Linked DNA regions of Homo sapiens. The protein of the gene in region 1 interacts with the protein of each later gene in a pairwise test. Each region holds a gene or a part of one and is shown in the gene's direction. Other genes may lie near its edges.

Region 1 (7,240 bases):
TATTCCATGATATATATATACCACATTTTCTTTATCCACTCATTGATTGATGGGCATTTGGGCTGGTTCCATATTTTTGCAACTGCTAATTGTGCTGCCATAAACATGTGTGTGCCAGTGTCTTTTCTCATATAATGACTTCTTTTCCTCTGGGTAGATACCCAGTAGTGGTATATCTACTTTTAGTTCTTTAAGGAATCTCCATACTGTTTTCCACAATGGTTGTACTAGTTTACATTCCCACCAGCAGTGTAAAAGTGTTCCCTTTTCACTACATCCACACCAACATCTATTATTTTTTATTTTTTAAATTATGACCATTCTTTCAGGGGTAAGGTGGTTTGCACTGTGGTTTCGATTTGTATTTCCCTGATAATTAGTGATGTTGAGCATTTTTCAATATGTTTGTTGGCCATTCCTAAATCTTCTTTTGAGAATTGTCTATTCATGTCCTTAGCCCACTTTTTGATAGACTGTTTGTTTTTTTCTTGCTGATTCGTTTGAGTTCCTTGTAGATTCTGGATATTAGTCCTTTGTCAGATGCATAGTTAGTGAAAATTTTCTCCCACTCTGTGGGTTGTCTGTTAACTCTGCTGATTATTTCCTTTGCTGTGCAGAAGCTTTTTAGGAGTTAATTAAAATAATCCCAAACTTTAGAGATAAGCGTCCACACGTGGCATCCCAGTTATTTTCAAGTTTGCAACTGCAGGCATGTAATAAATGACTGGAAGTAAATAAGAAAATGAATGAATCAATAAGTAAATTCCCTATATGACTCATATGAGGAGAAAGTAAAATTTCAGAAAAGCTTCCTGAGAGATAAAAAGAGAGATGAGGGATTAGTGACAGAAAATATGACTCACCCTCTTATTTGCCCTCATCTTTATTGCCTCTTGTACTGAACATCTCTTGCTGAATTGTGACTAATATTCCTACTTCCAGAAAGAGGGCCCCTCTTTTCCTGGAGAACTGTACCTTCCCCACTTTATAGCATGCTACTGAGACTCTGAGACTCTCAATCATGTGATTTTTGCCTATTTTTGGTGCCTACTGGTTCATCAAAACACTCTTCCCCCAAACCCTTCATAAGTGATTGGTACTAGCACAGTTGATTAGAGTTGTTGGTTTTTTTCTGTGACTTAATATAAATTCTGAAAAGAAATGGGTCTCTCTCATTCTGAGATCTTGAACACCAACGACCATGTATGGCTTAAGCATGTTAGGACTATCTTGCTGCATTATCTTGAGAGCAAGCATCTCTAAGAAAATAGGACAGGAGAGCCTACAGGCTTAGAGAGAAGCTTGATTACATTGTTTGAACCACAGATCGAGCCTTATCTGAAGCTAGATTAATTCCTAAGACTTCCCACTCATATGAGTCATTAAGTATACTTTTTCCTTTAGCTTGTGTGATTGGATACAACGACTGAAAGAGATAATTTACTTCTGTAAAGTCAACTTGACTCTGGATAGTAATAAATAAGAGAGATTACAGATGCAGTTGTGAAAGTTGTTACAGAGTCTAGGAAAATGGCATAATTAAATAGTCCCAGGATTTATGTTTGATATCAAACAGAACTTGTTGGATATCCTGATGAGAAATATGTAAAATAATAGTATTTCTGTCTTTTCCTATGATTCCTACTGAAATCAGTAAAGGTGGACACAGAGTTTAACAGAGACAGCCATGAGGTATGACCTCTCCACATATCATATGGAAGCACTGAGAATGTGTGCAAGGGCTGGGAAGACAGAGCAGTGCTGTGCATAATCCCCAAGAGGGAAGAAGAGAGCATGGACTCTCAGAAGACTGGATATTGGCACTCAGCACCAGGAAATATTTCTAACCACTCTCCCAGAAGAAAATGCAATAAATAAACCCAACATTTACAGGGAGGCTAGCAGAAAATTTCAAATGCAAAGATGAACACATAACCAAAAATTACCAATCATTTGAAAGAGACTAACACTTGAAAGAGAGGCATAAAGCACAATAATCAGAAGAAATTGACATGCCAAGAAAACAAAGTTAAAAGGACAGTTGATACAAGAATTTAGAATAAGTGTGTTTAATTACCAGACTGATGTGAGAGGATATTGCAGCCATACTTAGAGTTAACTAGATATTTGTTAAATTTAAAATATGATACGTGAAATAAAGAAAAACTTGAGGGACACACTAAAGTTCAAAATGAAAACAATAAACTGGAGAAATAAAATGTTAACTCAAGAATTCTTGCAGAATACAGAATAAAAGGAAAGTGTGATCAAAATTATGAAAGAAAAGTTAACAGATATTAGATCTCAGGTCTAATGGGCCATTAAAAGCGCCAAACATGATGAAGATAAAAAGATCTGCATAAAATTTCATAATACCAAGGATGAAGAGAAAAATGCTACAAAGATTCACAATTATACTAACTTTGACATCAGACATTTCATAAATGACATTGGATGCATGAAGAGAATGAAACAGTATCCTCAAGGCTAAGAAGAAAAATATTTTTCACCTAATTCTATAGCAAGTAAATTTATCATCTATTTAGGAAGAAAAAATATGTACTCAGTCTAATACTGGTCCCCTCTGAAAGAGCTACCAAAGACTTTACAAGATAAGAAACAAATTGAGTAGTGAGGAGTAGGTTTTAGAAACAATATTGGTTAAAGAAACCAAGGTAACAAACAATATTGCCTAATTGTGAGTGAGGCAATATGTTCATATGAACTGTTGACACATGCAATAACTTGGATGGACATCGTGGACGTTACGCTGAGTGGGAGAAAAAAGCCAATCTCAAAATTTACTCCCATGCATAAATAGTAGTAGTTGGGGTGGTGATAGTAGTAGTTGCTAATTATTTAGTGCTTAAACTAAGTGTCAGAAACTGTTTTTAAATGTTGTACATGTATTAATTCATTTAATCCTATGAGTACTTAGCACAGTACTAATAATACTTGTGATCTTCAAAACTAAATCTTACAAATTGGCACAGGGTCTGGGCATCCAGGCTTAGAAAGAGAGATGAAGTTAGATTTATGTTACAGAGCTGAAGTAACAGTCACATGACAAATATGAAGGTTCCAGAGGGAAGGGCATGAGGCATGAGAGAAAGGTCTCCAATATGTAGTCAGTAAAATATTATTCAGCACTAAAGAAATAAGCTATCAAGCCACAAAAAGACAGAGAAACTGAAATCCGTATCGCTAAGAGAAAAGCCAATCTGGGACAGCTACACACTGTATGATTGCAGCTATGTGACATTCTGTAAAAGTCAAAACCATGGAGACAGTAAGAAAACCAGTGGTGACCAGGGGTTAGAGGGGAAAGAAGGATTAATAGGCCTAATTATTCATATACACCCATATATTCCCTTTCATGTTACAGGCATTTGGCATAGCAGAAGTTACAGCAACATTTACTGTATTGGTGAATTAAATAATGTTTATGATAATGACGAGTTAATGAACCATATCCCCTTTCCCTAACTCAGAGCAAATAGTCCTTCCCCATTTATTAGATATCCTTTTCAAACCGATAAAAGATCCAGCTGGGAAAAGTGGCTCATGCCTGTAATCCCAGCACTTTGGGTGGCCGAGGAAGACAGACCACTTGAGCCCAGGAGTTCAAGACCAGCCTGGGCAACATGGTAAGACCCCATCTCTACAAAATACAAATTAAAAATATTAGCCAGGTGTGGCAGCATGCACCTGTAGCCCCTAGGCCCAAGGCAGAAGGATGGCTTGGGCCCAGGAGTTCGAGGTTGCAGTGAGCTATGATCACGCCACTGCACTCCAGCCTGGGCAACAGAGCAAAACCTTGTCCAAAAAAAAAAAAAAAAGAAAAAAAAAGAATTCTCAATCACCCACCAGTTCTCTGCATGGTGTCCACTGACAATTTGTTCTCTTGTTTGGAGTTGTCGTGAGACTTCAGATTTTCTGAGGAAAGCCTATCCATAGAGTCACTTGGGGTATTTTTACACTATGACTTCAAGGACCACAGCTGTTTCAGAACTAAGAGGTTTTCCATTCCCAAGGGTCACCAGTAACATGGAGAGAGAAGGAATCTCAAAGAATACCCGAGTAACACCCAGTTAACAGAGGCTGTGGAATTATCTAATTGTCAGTTAATTGTACTACTGTTTATTGCCTCTTCAAATCTCCACCCCAAGATAAGCCAATTTACGAGGAAAACAGACTGATGAAAATAAATGTGTTCACAGACAAGGAACAAAAACATTTTACACAGCCACAAGAGCCAGTTAAGAACTCACAGGTACTTTTCCAGCCACCCAGATAGGAGAGATCATTAAAACAGGTGAGTAAGCAAAACTATGGAGACTGCCTTTCTCTATTTCTAATCTTGCCAGTGGTCAGTGGAGGGCAGGGAAGAACAAAGCAAAAGAAATTAGAAAGACTGTGTCTGCTGAGGGGTTCTCTCAAGTCAGAGAAAGATAAGAAAAGGGAGAAAGCTCAGAAGAAAGTGTGGGAAACAAAAAAAAAAACTGATAGTGAGAGCCTCTCTTACTGACAAGGATAGGCTGGTTTTGACGGTGAGACAGCATCAAGATAAAATATTTCTCTAATAACCAACCAGCAAAAGTCCCCAGTGCTTTGTGGGAAGCAAGCATGGATACAGTCACTCAACCTAACATCTAGTTGGAGAGAGGAAGAAGGACATCAAAAATACCTGTTTACAACTGATATTTCTTTGCCTTGTTTTATGTATGACATTGTTTGGGTGGAAAATGTATGAATATGTCACAGGAATTCAAAATACGGGAGAGATCGTTGTGGTCTAGAGTTATGCTGGAAAGTTTCCTGTAGAGATTGCCCCTGAGCTGGGGATTCACTGACTATAGAGTCTAGATTGGTGCAGGGGCAGGCCACCCCAGGTGGGCAGTAGGATGAGTCATAAACAAAGCCAGAAAAGCAGGAAGGATTCTTTTTTAATTTTTGTCTTTGAGTATGTGTGTATCCATGTATTGTGCTTTGTATGTATATTTTTAATTTACATAAAAATGTGATAAAGATTTATGTTTATTTCTTTCTTCACTTAGAGCTGTTTTTAAGAGCTCTTCATATTACAGGTAAATCTAGTGAGTTGTATCTAACTGTTGGATAGTATCCCACAATACACATCCACTACATGTTTCTTAACCATTTCATAGTAATACATATTAAAGTCTATTTAATTCCCTACAATTACAGCTATACATATAATCAACTGAAAACAAACTTTGTATGTGATTCTTTATGGACCTGACTGAGAAGTCCTCTGTGATGTATCCAGAATGAATTGCTTGGACATAGGGCATAGATAAACACAAACTAACAGAAATATTGCCATTCTGCTTTCAAAACGATCATGTTAATTTGTACTCTTACATAGCACAGCAGAGTTATGTATAAAGATCCAATCTATATTGTGACCTAGTTCAGCTTAAGTCCATAACAGGAGGATTGTTTAGCTTTAGAAAATATACGAATGTAATACATCACATTTAAACATAAAAGTTTAAAAATTCATATAATTACCTCAATGAATCAGAAAAGGCCTTTGTCAATAACTCAACTTCCATTAGTAATAGAAACACTTCACAAACTTTCTTAAAAGAGAACTTCCTCAATCTAATAGAAGGCATTAAGAAAAGCAAATATCACAAATCCAACATCATATATTTAATTACACATAGTAAAATGTTGAAACTAACTATGAAAACAAGGCAAACGTACCCAATATGGCCACTTCTAATCATCTTTGTTCTCTATGTGTGCCTATATAAAAGCACTATTAAAATAAAGCACTTGCATTTCTACACATCAGCCACAGATATTTGTTTGGAAAATGAAATAAAAAGAAAAACATATAGAATGTGCATATATATGGATATATATATACACACACACATAAACACATATACATAGATGTGTGTATAGTTTATATTTATAATTATAAATAAAATTTATGTTTCCCAAAATAGTAGACTTGCTTATAGTCTCCTTTTGAGAGCAACTAGAAAAGCTAGAGGATGTTATATTTGATCTGTTAAGCGTCAGAGAGCAACTGGGGCAGTGAGGGGTTGAGAGATCTAGATTCTAGAGAGAAAGCAAGAGAGGAACAAAGGGCAGTTAGGGAAATAGAAGGAAAATGAGGTAACATATTCAAAGTGCTGATGCTTTTAACCACCAAAAACAAAAATAAATAAATAACACTTGTCAATCTAGAATTGTATAGCCCGCAAAAGAAACCCTCAAAATGAAAGCAAAATAAGATTTTTTAAAATGTAACCTTGAGAATTTGTCACTAGAAGATGTCTTACAGAATATTAAAGATAGTTCTTGAAGCAGAAGATAAATTCTCCCAAATGACAGTAGAGAACGGCAAAGAAGAATGAAAAAGAAGGAAACTAAATGTACAAATATAAATGAACAAGGATTTTATATATATATATATATATATATATATATATATATATATGTATTATATATAATATATTGTGGTGTTTTAAATATTCCTAGAATTAAACCAGTCAGTGGTGAGTGCCTATAGTCCCAGCTACATGGGAGGCTAAGGTAGAAGGATCACTTGAGCCCAGTAGTTCCAGTCCAACCTAGGCAGCATATTTCTTTTCCATCTCTAAAAGAAATAAAATAAATATTTCTAGAACTGAAATGCCTGACTATAGCAAGAAAATGTGAAAGAGTTAAATGTAAATGGAGTACAGTTTTCTAAGGTCCCTCATTTCCTAATAATTAGTAAAAGTACCAATTTATATTAGACTTCATTAAGTCAAAGATGCATATTGAAATTTCCAAAATAGAGTAGAAATTATTAAAGTAGTTTTTATAACAAGCTAAATGAGAATGGAAATAGAATAATTTTAGAGTTTTTGACTAATACACAAGAGGTCAAAAAGGGGGCCGGGCACGGTAGCTCATGCCTGTAATCCCAGAACTTTGGGAGGCTGAGGCACGCAGATTACTTGAGGTCAGGAATTCGAGACCAGCCTGGCCAACATGGTGAAACCCCGTCTCTACTAAAACTACAAAAAATTGGCCAGGTGTGGTGGCTCACGCCTGTAATCCCAGCTACTCAGGAGGCTGAGGCACTATAATTGCTTGAACCCAGGAGACAGAGGTTGCAGTGAGCCAAGATAGTGCCACTGCACTCCAACTTGGGCAACAGAGTGAGACTCTGTCTCAAAAAAAAAAAAAAGTCAAAAAGGGAGAAAATGGAATA
Region 2 (7,036 bases), on another chromosome or scaffold:
ATGCCAAGGTCTATCACACTGCTATGAACAAAATAGGACTTGTTGGTTTGATTGAAGATTTGAGATGTCTGGGTGTCGAGAAGTCAACTAAAGGGATATGACCTTGAGCAAATTAATTAGCTTTTGTACCTGCATCTCCTCATCTGCCAAATAAGTGCCTATTTTTTTTGGAACAGGTGGAGATAGGGGCATGTTGGGGAGTTAAGATAGCAGTGTAATTTTTTAAAAGTCTATTCGTATATTTATATTCTTTCTTCAATGGGCATTTGAAGTGGCTTATAACACAGAACATATATGTGATATAAAAGGAAGTAAAAACTATAGAAAGAATGAAAAAAATATTGTTAACCTCGAGGGCTAAGATAGTTGATGAGGTTGATCACATGCAACTTGAAACTTTTAGCAGCCAGAGGATGAAAAGAATCATAGTTACAGTCTCCTTAGCAGGCATGGGAAATAATACATGTCAATTCCTCAAGGGGACGACTTTTCCTGACACAGAGTTCTAAAATAATTTTTCACGGGAATGTCTTAATAGCTGTAGTGTAATTCACATTGTAAGGCTTGTTCACGACTGTCACTGGTGATTTCAGATGGTATGGCTAGGAAAATTTGAGGTAAGAAAAGGAATCCTTGAGTTTTAAGAGTTAAGTGTACCACAACTGAAGAAGATCCTTGTTTAATGTTGGCAGTTATCGGTCAAACCAAGTAAGTAATCTAGTTCCCCATAACCACTGGTTATTTATCCCTCTTTTGCTGCTACTTTGTGTAACAGGAGTGGTAACTGTCCTTGGACCTTTGGAAATTGACACTGTGTCAAGTTGATTCTTTTTTCATAGTGTAAACCCAAATCTCCAACTTGTTGGAGAGCTCTTACAATAAGCATGTTTCTCCGGAAGGCCTTTCAGAACATTTGCTGTTCTCTGAACTTCTGAACATTAAAGGCACTCTCCAGAGTGATCCATTAAACATTTTGACCTAGGATCTGTGGAGTCAGACCCATCAGCAAAATGTGGGGAAGGAGAAGAGCACAGAAGAAACTACTTTTGTTTATAGGATATTCTTTATTTGAATGAAGCTATGTGCCACTAATTCATCAAAAGGGTCAGCTGAGACTTAGGAAGCACACCAAGTAGAGCCCCAATGGGTACAGCTTGGGTGTTAACCCGATAGGTAAAATCCAGGTTTCTCCTTTTGTCATCAGAGTTATCTTACGGTTAATTTTTGGTGCAGTTGTATAGAATTTACGCCAGGACTTGTCAGAATCACTGAAAGGAGATTTCATAGGTTGGCATTTCCTATCTTCACATCATTAGTATCTCTTGATTCTCCTTAGAGTGGCTGCTGTTGTAGTAGCAGTCTTTAAAACAGGAGTTGGGGTGTAAGAAGATCCTCTTTTTAAGATTTCTCCGCAGGTATTGATTACATCTCTTTTTCTTGTTTGGTTTAGTTAGTTACACTCTAGTTTCCAAATTACTTTGTTCCAAGTTTCTTTAGACATTTAGCTTGTAACAGAAATCTGTTAGAAGATTTCTAGATCAGTAGTTGTCTAGATCTTTTGCTGCCAAGGTTACAAATGTATACCTTTTCTTTTATCAGGAGTGTGTCATTTGGATCCAGAGTGTTTTACCCAATATAATATTCTTTTTTAAAATTTATTTTTATTTTTTATAGAGATGGGGAAATCCCTGTGTTGCCCAGGCTTGTCTTGAACTCCTGGGCTCAAGCGATCTTCCCACCTCAGCCTCCCGAAGTGCTGGGATTACAGGCAAGAGCCACCACGCCCACCCCAATATAGTATTCTTGGAAAGTTGTCTATAAAGGATATTTTGATACATGGAATCATGCAGGTCTTTAGTTGCCTGTGACTCCTAGCAAGTGTACTCTGCCACTCCGAGTAGTTAATGATCTGTAAATAAGCACTTTAATGCCCTCTTGGGGTTGTTTTAAAGGAACTGGCGAATAAAGGAGAATCATTTATACGTACCTGTTTCTCAAGTTTGGGAATGTGAGTATTGCATTTTTATAAAGAATGTCAACCCTGATTATACTGGATACATTTTATTATAATTTAGAACTGAATAGTAATTCAGAACACATGCTAATGAGGTGCGTCAGAAGCATTCCTGTCATGTGAAGGGCAACCTACGTGCATAGACCAGAATTTTTTCTAGCCTGAAATCTGAGAATCCCCAGTTGAAGACAAATTCTTACCACAAATTTTCCTTTTGATTATTGTCAATACTATCAGTGCCTATTGTGTAGTAAGCAGTTAATAAAAATTCACACAGAATTGCAGTTGCCTTTCCTTTTCTGATTCCATATTTTCCTTTGACTCACTCAAGTAGTTCTTTTGTCCCACTGTTGCTTGGCTGTTACATAAGACGCCTTTAACTTCCCGTTTCTGTTCCTAAAACTGTGAGTAGTAGTACAACATAAGGTAAGCACTGATTTTTGGAGTCAGTTTTACCTTTAGTCTCTACCATCTAATAGTTGTGGGACATTCAACAAGTGACGTCCTTTTCTCATCTGTAAAATGGGGAACAATGATAGTGCTATCTATATACATGGTTGAGAGGGTTAGCATTTAGTAAATAGTAATTAGTGGGGTTTTTTTGTACCTAGAGTGACCATATATCCTGGTTTGCCTGGCGCAATTCTGGTTTATACCTGTTATCCTAGCATGCAGTCCAAGGAGTGCCTCCGTAGCTCTGAAAGTTACCCTGGTTTATGTGGCCACCCTATTTATAACTCTCTGGATGATGCAACATGATAGTGCAAATGAGAGCCTAATTTTGAAATGTTAAAGAGCCAAAACAAAGAAGTTTCTATTGGAATGTCTTTTCAATAAGAAAATTTTTTTCTGACAAAAATGTTATTTTATATAGAGCTTACAGCTACTGAACCCCAAAACATTTTGTTAACTACAGGGGTGGGGTGTGTAGACAGAGATCTTAGAGCTTTTGATGGAGTTGAGATGTCCTCTACCTTACCATTCCCCATTCATCCCCCGTAATACATAATGCACTCATAGAATGTGGGTATTTGTCAGACACTGGGCCAGTCTCAGTCCAGGAGTTTATTTCCTTAAACTTCAGGTGTTTGGGGTTTTCCCAAACTAGAATCCTTGAATTACATGAAATAATTGCAAAGACTTCTGAACTGTGACTTTATCATTTTAGGTATGTACTCCAGCACCCCCGCCCCCATCCCTGCAGGTACTGTTTTCTCATTGCTCTTAACAGCCTGCTTCTAATTATGTATAACTGATTTTCTCCTGTAGAAATGTGTGGCCTTTGCTGCATGCCACTCATAGAACTAGAGTGGAGCATCCATGCCTTTGTTGAGAGACTCAGACTGCTTTCATTTTTGTTTCTATCTCTGTTTAATTTTTCTAAAGGATTTAGCCTGGTGCCTTAATCTCAGAATGTAGATAATGATGGATACTGCTTATCAGTATACATTGGGGGGCTTAATCATTCACTACCCAAATGGAACACAAAGTAAAAAGTTTAATGAACTATTGGTAAAAGGTAGTATTTGGAAATCTGGGGTAGAGATTGGAAAAGTACTTTTGAGAACCACAGGTACAAGACTCTCCAAGCATGCTCCTGCTTCTTACCATAAAAGCCCCAACGCCTCCGCTGATGTGCCTGTGTACTTAACCTGTGGGGCTTAATGGGCTTAACATGTTCTTCTCTACCAGCCCAAGCCAGTTCACTTGTTTTAAAGTGGACAGCCTGTACTCAGTTGTGTGATGGAAATGGGGCATATTAAACAGGAGGGGTCTGGGACTGCTCTCTGTTCCATGCTGTTCATCTTGGACCTGCCTCAGGCTTACTTCTTCACAATTTGAGGAACTGCTCAGCAAGAGCACACCCTATTGTTGACATGTTTTTCTTTTCTCTCCGGAACCTGCGAGTGTACGATGGCATTAGTGGAATCCCTCTGAGCCTGTGTGCCAAGGAAAATGCTAATGTGCTGATCCACAATGATGTGTGGCTCAGTGTGAACTACGTAGTAAATTTGTGAGTGACAGAGTAAAGGGGCAAGAGGCTGGAGGAGATGAGTATAACCATCTTTCATTCACTTAGACTTCCTGAATGAAGCCGTTCATACTGAGTTTTGAGCAATGAGAGGATTTTGGAAGTTCTGTTTTTAATAAATGGCTCCAACTCTTCTAGTACTTACTAATTGTATTAAGGTGAACCTTTGGGACATAGGTTTCCATATGCTTAATGGGAAATACTTTGTCCCTTTTCCCCCAAGACTGGCTTGACCTCACGTCAAGACCTCACGTCAAAGCTTTTGGGCCATGACCTGTTTCCTTTGTGGTTCCAGAAATCTGGGGGCGGGGGGAAGAAAAGAGAGAGACCTACCATAAAAGTTAATAGGACAGGCTGGGCCCAGTGGCTCACGCCTGTAATCCCAGCACTTTGGGAGGCCGAGGCAGGAGGATCACAAGGTCAGGAGATCGAGACCATCATGGCCAACATGGTGAAACCCCATCTCTACTAAAAACACAAAAAAAATTAGCTGGGTGTGGCAGCACACACCTGTAGTCCCAGCTACCCGGGAGGCTGAGGCAGGAGAATCGCTTGAACCCAGGAGGTGGAGGTTGCAGTGAGCCAAGATCGCACCACTGTACTCCAGCCTGGCAACAGAGCAAGACTCCGTCTCAAAAAAAAAAAAAAAAAAAAAAGTTAAAGGACAGAGATTCTGATCTGCCCTCTTTGACCAGACCCACCCCTTCTCCTTTCTCAAAGACTTTAAGGAGAAGACTTCAGGTTCTCATGACTGTTAGCTTTATTTTGGGGATGTAGAAAATAGAGATTCACTTTGAATTTTCAAAATGCACATCCCCATCTTTGTTTCTAATTTTAGAAGAGAGGTCAGTAAGTAGACAGATTTGTGTAGAAGATAGAGAATTGGAATATGCTTCTCTTTTGCCTATTTGAGGGAATGCTCTTGAGAATCACTGGATTAGAGACTGTAGAACAATGGTTCTTACTCTTTGAGTCAGAGGTCCTTTTAAGAGTTTAATGAAAATCCTGGTTCTTTCCTCAGGAAAATTCAGGAGCACAAAAATATGCGTATTCTGTTAGAGGATTTATGGGACTTCTGAAACTCATGGATCCTGGGTTTTAAAGTCCTGATGTGGAAGGCCAGGCCTCCAAGCCACAGCATCTCTTTTCATTACAAGTCCACAAACTGCTAAGAGATTTAAGTTTCCAGCCTGCAGTTTGTCCTTATGGCTTGGAACAAAGCTGAGGTTGTTGGCATTGTCAGCTCCCTCTTTGGGATGCTCCTCAGCTTCCCAAAAGACTCATTATAAGTGCCTTGAGAGTTCAGCTCAGGAACTTAACACACATTCGAACCGGCATTTCGGCCACTTTGGGGGAATTTTTGGTATTATCTCAACTCTACTGCTCTTCATATGAAATGCAGATGCCCCTGAAGCTCCAGAGCTGATTCCGTAGGAGTGTTTGAAATAGTAGCTCACATAGTAGATTATCAAAACTAAACAAAATAATTTGCTTCTGTATGTCTCTCAAAAATAGGTTGGATTTCAATGTAGTACTTCTCAAACTATTATATTTTAAGGACTGACCTGATATTTGAATTTTACTCATCATTTGACTTTTCTAGATGGAATATGTTGAGGGCAAAGACCGTATCTCACACATATTTATATAGTACCTGGCACATAATACTGTCAATAAATGCTTATTGAATAAAATAATGTGAGATAATCATTCCTTGGAGAAAGTAAGTTGGACTTATGTGGTGGCTTTGACTCACTTTCCCTTTCAGTTGGCTGGGGTGATTTTTCTAACTTAGAGCCCTCTCACATAGGTATAAGGAAGTACCAAGAACTGCAGGTGAGAAATTGATGAGAATTTCCAACTTAATAGATCCCTTTATAAAGCCAGAAATAGGAGGTCAGGGAGAAGACATCTGAATATATGCCTCCAGCTTCTTAGCCCAGTGGCAGTGGGCATAGGGATATCCTTAGACAATAATGGGGAAGGTAACTTGAATTTCTCACCATTGAAACAACTTTTAAACCCTTAGCATTAGGGAGACTCTGTCCAAAGTTGAAACTGGTATCCTGGTTTATACATGCTCTTGATTTAAAGAACAGGGAGGCTTTCACATAGGGTATTTGAGGTTTGGGGATTAGCGATGAGTTGAATAGTTTGATTTTGGAAAGTACATTGGAACTCTGAAAGTAATAAACAACAGCTCCGTCCGGCAGTGATGAGCAAACTTCTGGTTCTTACTCTGCAACCCTGGCTGCCCCTTCTGAGTCAAAGGCTGAGTTTGATGCTCAAAAGCTATACATGCCCTTCTCTCTTTGAAACACACCTTCTTTAGAATTACAGTCTTCTGGGAACTGGGCCAATGCTTATCCTAGCCAGAAGCTCAGGCTCTAGTTGGCACTACATTTTGTGTGTTCTGTTTCACTTCAAGTGTATAACTTAGGCAAGATTCAGGGGAAAAGGAGACCTTCAGAATTTTGCTATTTTGTGTTGTTTGTTTGTTTGTTTGAGATGGATTTTTGCTCTTGTCGCCCAGGCTGGAGTGTGATGGCACGATCTCGGCTCACTGCAATCTCCACCTCCCGGGTTCAAACAGTTCTCCTGCCTCAGCCTCCCAAGTAGCTGGGATTACAGGCATGTGCCACCACACCTGGCTAAATTTTTTTTGGTGTTTTTTTTGTTTTTGTTTTTGTTTTTAGTAGAGATGGGATTTCATCATGTTGGTTAGGGTGGTCTCGAACTCCTGACCTCAGGTGATCCACCCGCCATGGCCTCCCAAAGTGTTGGGATTACAGGCATGAGCCACTGCACCCGGCAAATTTTGCTATTTTGGAAGTTGAAATAGGTGCTTCCTAGAGATAGCAGATGTATCCAGTTGCTTTGGTAACTAATTCAGTTTCTTATGGGTGGCCAGGTGGTATCCCACTTATTATTCAATACTTGAGGGTTCAGTGCCCAGCTTCTGAGCACCAGCTTTCTTAGCAAGCAAGACA
Region 3 (7,413 bases), on another chromosome or scaffold:
TTGTTGAGGAAATTAGGTTCTGCGAAATGGCTTCATGGTTTGGCTCCACATTAAGGATGAGGTGTACAAGAATGAAAAGGGAAATAATTTCTGAATATATTTTCTTCATTGCTGTGACTTATTACTTACTGCATATTGGCCCTTTGGCTTTTATACTATAAAAAAACATAAGTTCGGTTATATTCTGCTGACCAAAGGAAATCATGACATAAACTGCTAGTTGTACTGTTTCTTTCCTGTTTTGCAACCAATATAAAATACTACATTTCTCTACATTAAAAATATACATAGTGAATTTAAATGCTTCCTCAGTTTAATAACCACTATAAAAATAGCCAGGAAAAGCCACTGGTGGTAATGCCACTATTTTTAACCATGAACTGTATTCTCAAAATACCATAACTAGATAATTGGGACATAGGAGAGTTGTCTTTCTGTGATTTTGAATTCTAGGGGTTTGATGTGAGAATGAAATTTAGGCCGATTTTATTGTTTTAATGGGAAGTTCATCTGCATGATCTATTAACAATGAAATGCAAGAGGCCATTAAAGGTGAAAAAGTAACTTCCTACTATTTTTCATGGGTGTTTTCAAAGTAAGATAAAGATTTATTTTCTGACTTTGTATAGTGACCACAGCCAGGGCCAGAGAAAAGTGATCTCCCTTGAGTTGCTTGCAGTCTGCACTCTGACTTCCTCCTCTTGGCCCAGTTGAGTCCAGACATTTCAACAGCTTGACTAAGCCTCATCACCAGTTAGCTGCCAAATTCAGTGGCTGCCAATACCACTAGTAGCTTTTTAAATACACCTGTTGCCAGCACTATGTTTGAGTCAAGAAGGCTAGACCTTTCTGGTCTACCCCAGTGGCTAAGCTCTCTTTCAAAGGAGAATTATTTTTAGTATTACTTCATCATTTTTCCTTAAGAAAATGTTTTTCTAGCAAGCTTCTCTCCTTACAGAGAAATTGCATTTACACTGATCCCAGTACATAACATCTCGTCTGGGTTAGCCTAGGGAGAAAGAGTAGTTTCAATAATTGATATTACCTGTGGGGCCAGCAAGATATATGAATAACAAAACATAAAAACTTGGTGTAACTGAGAGGTTTCAAGTGTAATAATCAAAAACCACTTACAGCAAAGTTAATCTGATAGTTAATGGTATGTATTGCGTGGTAATTAGGTATAAACACTAAGTACTTCATATAAAGGACTATAATTAATGTGTTTCATGAAGCCAAACAAGCATTTTTGGAGCAAGCTTGGTGGGGAGATGAATAGAAAAGCAGTTAAAGCTAGATTCTGTTCTAAAGATCCTGGACCACAGATCCTCTTTGGCCAGGTTTTTCTGCGTTTCCATTAGCATTTGCTCACAGCCAGGAGGCCAGTGGCCAGGAACAACTTTCCCTATCCACCACAAAGCTGATAAAAAGCTAAAGAGAAAAAGTGTGGTGGATTCAGTTCTGACAACCTTCCAATCTTTGAAACACTGTATGACTATTTAGCTGTAGCTTAGCAGTACTTTAAGGTGAAGAAATAGGACATATCAGAGTATTTCAATACTTTGGGCACTATATAGCCACTGATAAGGATTCTTCCTCAACAGTCTTTTCAGCTAGTAGGACTTCATGAGCTCATTTTGATCCATTTGACTATGAGTCAGTGTTCTCAAGGTGTATGTGTTTTGCTTTTACCAATGGAATATTTGGTCATAGATAAATCTGTAGTTTATTAAAAAACAAAAAACACCAAACTGGCTGGGCACAGTGGCTCACACCACTTTGGGAGGCTGAGGTGGGCAGACCATTCGAGTTCATGAGTTCGAGGCCAGCCTGGCCAACATGGTGAAACCCTGTCTGCACTAAAAATACAAACATTAGCCAGGTGTGGCGGCACATGCCTGTAATCCCAGCTACTCAAGAGGTTGAGGCAGGAGAATCACTTGAACCTGGGAGGTGGAAGTTGCAGTGAGCTGAGATCACGCCACTGCACTCCAGCCTGGGTGACAGAGCGAGAGGCTGTCTCCAAAAAAACAAAAAACAAAAAACAAAAAAAAAACCCAAAACAAACAGAAAAAAACCTTACACATACGTCTGGTCTGAGGTTGACATGTCTTTACCCTAAGGATATCTGGTTATTTTTTTCCTGCAATGTGTGCCTGTGTATGACGCCAGTGACACTGTTTCTATTGACTGACAGATTTGATTTGGTGTGACCTGATAAAATGATCTGGTTCAAATGCCAATTTCATTGGCTTTGTTCTTGCCTCCTTTCTTACCTGACATTCAATACATCAGCAAATCTTGTTTGCTCTTAGAAATGGAATCTCACCATTTTTACCACCTGCACTCTGGTCTGTCATCAATGTATTTTACCTGGATCATTACAATAGTCTTCTAACATCTAGTTGCTCTTAGGCTCAATCTGTTCTCCACAGTGCAGCTCTTCTCTCCCAACCCAAATCAGATTTGGTCACTCCTCCAATGGCTCTCCTTTTCATTCAGAATAAATTTTAAAGGTTACAAGATTCTACAACTATACCCTTCTTGTACCCTACTCCCTCTTCTGATTTAGTCAGCTGCTTTCCCACCGCTCACTGAATTCTAGCCTACACTGACCTCCTGCCTATTTCTCAAACATGCCAAGCCCACTTCCACTTAGGGTCTTTGCATTTGCTGATCCTTCTGTGTAAAATATTCTAACCCTGGGTAGCCAAATGGCTAATTTCTCACTTCCTTAGTTCTCTGCTCAAATGTCAGAGAGGCATTCCCAGACAAACATATTTAAAATAGCATCCTCCCTCCCCATGTCTCCCTACCCTGCTTTATTTTTCTATGACTCACCATCTGGCATAGTAGGTATTTATTGGCTTTTTTTTTTTTTTGGCCTTTCCGACTACAATATAAGCTCTATGACAGCAGGCACTGTATATCTCGGTGAGCTGTTGTATCCTCATTCCTTAGAACATTGCCTAGCCCATTTATGAATATTTGTTGAGCCACATGAATCAAGGCCTCCTTTTGAGATCGTGAACGTTTTCATTTATTTATTTATTTTTTTGAGACGGATTTTCGCTCTTTCACCCACGCTGGAGTGAAGTAACGCGATCTCTGCTCACTGCAACCTCCTCCCCGCCTCGGGTTCAAGCGATTCTTTTGCCTCAGCCTCCCCAGTAGCTGGGATTATAGACTCCTGCCACCACGCTCGGCTAGTTTTTGTATTTTTAGTAGAGACAGGGTTTCGCCATGTTGGCCAGGCTGGTCTCGAACTCCTGACCTCAGGTGATCACCCCCCCCCCCACTTGGCCTCCCAAAATGCTAGGCTTACAGCCATGAGCCACTGCGCCCGGCCATTTTTCTTTTTAAAAATAAACTTTCCAGATCTTAATTTCATGGCTTTAACATTTTAAATGTTTGAGGTATAATCTACTCATTCTTGGCTCTAATCTTTTTGTCAGGGAAGTTAAACTAGTGAGAGACCTATGAACAACAGCAACAATTTAATGAGCACGTCTTATATGCCAAGCTTTGTGGTTAAGCACTTTGCTTTATCTCACTTAATTCTAACTATGGTCCTAGAGGTTGGTATTACAACTAATCTCCTTTTACAGAGAGTTACTGAGACTTGGAGAGGTTAAATAACTTGCAGCCAGGTCACAAAATTAATCACTGAGTTGAGACGACAATTAAGGTATGGCCGACTCCATACTGCCTCCTAGCCGTCTCCTCGAGTAGTTCATGCCCTGTTAACTTAAGTCGTGAAGCTGCTGGTGTCAAAGCATTCCTTTTGCAGTTTCGTGTACTAGGGTTCTGGGTGATTTTGCACATATTTATTTCAAAGATCCTCCGTACCACACCAGGGAGTTTACCTTCTGGAATGTTGTTGAAGCCCCTGTCCTCTATGCTGGGACACTTTCATGCAACGTTTGCTTAGCCAGACTCAGGAAAACGCCTTTTTTTTTTTTTCTCATTTCCCTGCACTCCACATTAAACACAGAGGTAGTTTAAATCACCTGGTAAAAGAAGATGGGATCACAAACGCTGTGGTCCAGAAGGGAACATCAGTAAGTCGGTTCACCGCTTGCAAGTGGGGGCACTTACATATAAATGAAGAAAAAACAAGTTCTTAAAAAGCAGCCGACCCTGGGTTCTTAAAAAGCAGCCGGGGAAGAGGGCTCAGGGGACCGGACGCGGTGCCCCGCACCACGCTAGGCCTGACAACCGGAAGAGAGGGGCCAGGAGGGGCTCCTCCAGAGCGACTTCGGCTCCAGTAGGGAAACCGCCGAGGCTCCCCCAGCTCCAGGGAGCGCCGGGGACGCAGGCGGGAAGCCTCCATCGGGCAGCCGGCCTGGACTCACGACGCGGGGTGGGGCCGGCGCCCGCCCCGCCCCTCTCCTCGGGGATGCCGGGATGTTTACACTCCTGACAGCGGCGGCAGCAGGAGGAGGATCGGGAGTCGCGGGAGGATGGGCCGCCGCTAGGCTCGCACTCCGGACGCGCCTCGCAGTGCGCAGGGTGGGTGCCCCGCGCCTGCAGCGTCCGCCGGGGCGGCGCGGCGGGAGGTGGCCGACAGGCTCCGGGCCTCGCAGCCTCAGCCCCCGGCCCAGCGCGCTTTCCGACGGCGGCGCCGCGCCGAGCCACCCGCCCGCCCAAGGTCTCTCGCGGGCGGGAGAACGGAAAACTCCCAACTTCCTGGTGAGTCGCTGCCCAGGGTTCAGGCGCCCGGACCGGGCAGCTCCTGCCGGGAGGGGCCGCCTGCGGGAGTCGGGCCGGGAGAGGGAGGTCGGGACCGCGCGGGGCGGCCTCCGGGATACCCTCGCTCGGGGTAGGTGGGGCGGGGCGCGCTGCGCTCGAGGCGGATGGGGGTTTCGGTCTTGTTCGTTGGCAGCGGTGGGAGGGGGCGGCAGGAAACTTCATACCTGGCCCCGGCTCTAGAGGCCCGAGGCCGCCAAGGGCGCCGCGGTAACTAAGAAACTCCGTGGCCACGGCGGCGGCGGCAACAGGTCTTTGGTTTCGGGACCCGAGGAACTTAAGCGAAGTCCCGCCTTCCGGCGGATGCTCATTGGCGACGTCGGTTATTTATCTCTCGCGGATTGGTGAAGTCCGTCTGTCAGGATTCGGCAGCAGCCCGACTTAGGAAAGTGAAGTGCGCTGGGAGAGAGTGGGTGGTGGGAGCCGGCAGATAGGGGAGAATCCGAAGTGGCTTCAGAAGTACAGGGAGCGTGAGAGGTCTGTCGGAGAATGAACTTGGGAGAGACTCGGGATTACAAAATGTCGGAGAGAGGGATTGCGAGGCAATAGCGAACATTGCTGGTGATGGTGGCAATGGAAAAGAAATTGAAAACTGAGGCCAAAGTCAGAGAAGGGTAGCCAAAGGAAAACAGAGAAAAGTGACAAGACCGTATGACCGCAGAACAGTGTAAGGAAGCGAGCACAACCTAGAGGATGCTGCCTTGAGAGCTAAAGAACTTCTGTTGCCTCTGTTACACTGTAGGCCTTCACTCCTAAAACCGCAGCATCCTCTATTTAGTCTTGCACTGGGAGCGTACTGGGGTCGCGGAGAGATGATGTATCGTGTTCTCACCTTGCTGTAGTCCTCACTGGGGAGAAATGCTAAAAAATATACTTAGTTTACAGTAAGATACATGTTACTGTCCTTGCGCAATTCTGGTGACTGAACTGAAAATCAGAAATACACAGAAATAAAATGATTATTCTCCTTTGAGGTTACTGAGCTCAAGGATGCAATTGAAAACACCACATTTCCATAGTTTGTAGAGCCTAATGTACCCATCATAATGGGAACCACTGTTTCTAGTTCCTCCTCCAAGGAATTTACAGTTTCAAGGCTATGCACACTCCCTCCAGGCGACAGCAGTATGTCTTGTCAGGTTGCATTAGAGAATTAAAGTACAGAGTATGTGTATTATAAATATGTTCTGTTCAGGACCTTGAGCTGCTGGTGGTGTGGTCGAAGAATGGCATAGTCCTTGCACTCAAAAGCTACAGTATGTTTGGGACAACCGGTCAAACCCTGAAAACGGTGAACAGTAAAACAGGAGATACAGTTAACCCTCTAATGCTTTGTGGCAACTCTTGTTGAATGGCCGCTGAGTATTCTTGGTTTGTAACACTTGGTGATGGCCAAGTGCTCTTGAAACAGCTAACTTAAAATCTCAGCAGTTATTTTATTTCCAGAGGAAGGAATTCTCTCTCCCTCGGCGAGATCCAGTCCACAGCTTGCTTCACTCTTAGAACAGCGGCATCCTCTATTTGGTCTCGCACGGGGAACTTGCTGGGGTAGGGGAGAGGTGTTAGAGCTTTGAAAAAGCTTTGCCTCTCGGAGGAGTCAAAGGGGCAGTAACTGTATGGGGTGAGAGGAAGGCCTGCGAAATAAAAAGGCAAAGGAACCGTTTGAGGAGGCTAGTTGCCTTCTCGGGGCCGGTGTGTGTGCGGGGGTAGTGTTAAGGGGGAGGAAGGAGCCCGGGAGCCCGGAGGACCCTCCCGGAGGTGCGGGCCTGAAATTCCGCTGGGTGCCGGGAGGCTCCGCCCTCCGGAGTACTGACGGCCTTCGCAGCCAATGCGCAGCCAGGACCTCGCGTTCGGGAGGGCGGGTACTTCCTACTCCAGCCCTGGGCTCGGAGAAGGCCGCGTTAGTTCTTTTTCTAGGGATGTCTGCGGAAGGGGCGCCAGGCTGAGGGCCAGCCTGGAGAAAGAAAGAAAGGAAGGAAGGAAGGAAGGAGGAGGGGGGCTTCAGTTTTCCCTGAGCCATCCTAGGTGTCCCGTTTCGTGATTCAGCTGCACCTAGAACTTAACTACTACTGAAAGTTTATAGTAGATTAGAAGCGAAGTTGGTCAGCAGACTAAATATAGTCCATGTGACTGAGGCGGGTTTTACTCTGAAATTACCTGAAAATGAAAACCACTAAATGTCAGAATCTAAATCGTTAGGCGTTTTCACAACTTCTTGGGAATCTTTCCATGGTTAAAAATCTTACCAATTTAACAAGACTAACTTTATTTCTAAGCGTACAGACTCATTTTATAGTCTGAACTAGTATTTAGGTTTATTTATTTAGATAATACATGTAGCACCCACCATTGCTTTCCCCCTTTCATATTTTCCTGTCTGGACAATTTCGAGTTCATTTCCATCCCAGTAAAACAGCACTTACCCAAAGAATGAGGAAAGCACATATGGTATGATGGCAGTGTACTAGTAGAGGAGGGGAGATTTGATGCCTCTATAGCTAACATACCTGATTAATAAATTTAAAAAAAAATTGCATCGTAATGACCAGAAGTCCAGTGCAGTTACAGTTTGTGTAAATAAGTACTTAATCTCATAAGGACCTCATGCCCCAAATCTTTCCTGGTGCTTGCAGTTGATAGTTTTGGGCTCTGACTTACTGTAAA

The links. Proteins that work in one complex are often made in the same cells at the same time.
Region 2: the proteins of NXPE1 (region 1) and AHCYL1 interact in binary tests that used the Homo sapiens proteins (3 or more experiments, as listed by UniProt).
Region 3: the proteins of NXPE1 (region 1) and NEK7 interact in binary tests that used the Homo sapiens proteins (3 or more experiments, as listed by UniProt).

The regions. Positions count from the first base shown.
Region 1 is NC_000011.10:114,556,873-114,564,112, reverse strand, and holds the start of NXPE1 (NXPE family member 1 isoform 1 precursor), read left to right. Parts: upstream 1-4,231; 5' UTR 4,232-4,315; exon of another isoform or gene 4,316-5,087; intron 5,088-7,240.
Region 2 is NC_000001.11:109,987,729-109,994,764, forward strand, and holds part of AHCYL1 (S-adenosylhomocysteine hydrolase-like protein 1), read left to right. Parts: intron 1-7,036. UniProt on the Homo sapiens protein: Multifaceted cellular regulator which coordinates several essential cellular functions including regulation of epithelial HCO3(-) and fluid secretion, mRNA processing and DNA replication.
Region 3 is NC_000001.11:198,152,585-198,159,997, forward strand, and holds the start of NEK7 (serine/threonine-protein kinase Nek7), read left to right. Parts: upstream 1-4,413; 5' UTR 4,414-4,692; exon of another isoform or gene 4,693-4,822; intron 4,823-7,413. UniProt on the Homo sapiens protein: Protein kinase which plays an important role in mitotic cell cycle progression. Required for microtubule nucleation activity of the centrosome, robust mitotic spindle formation and cytokinesis.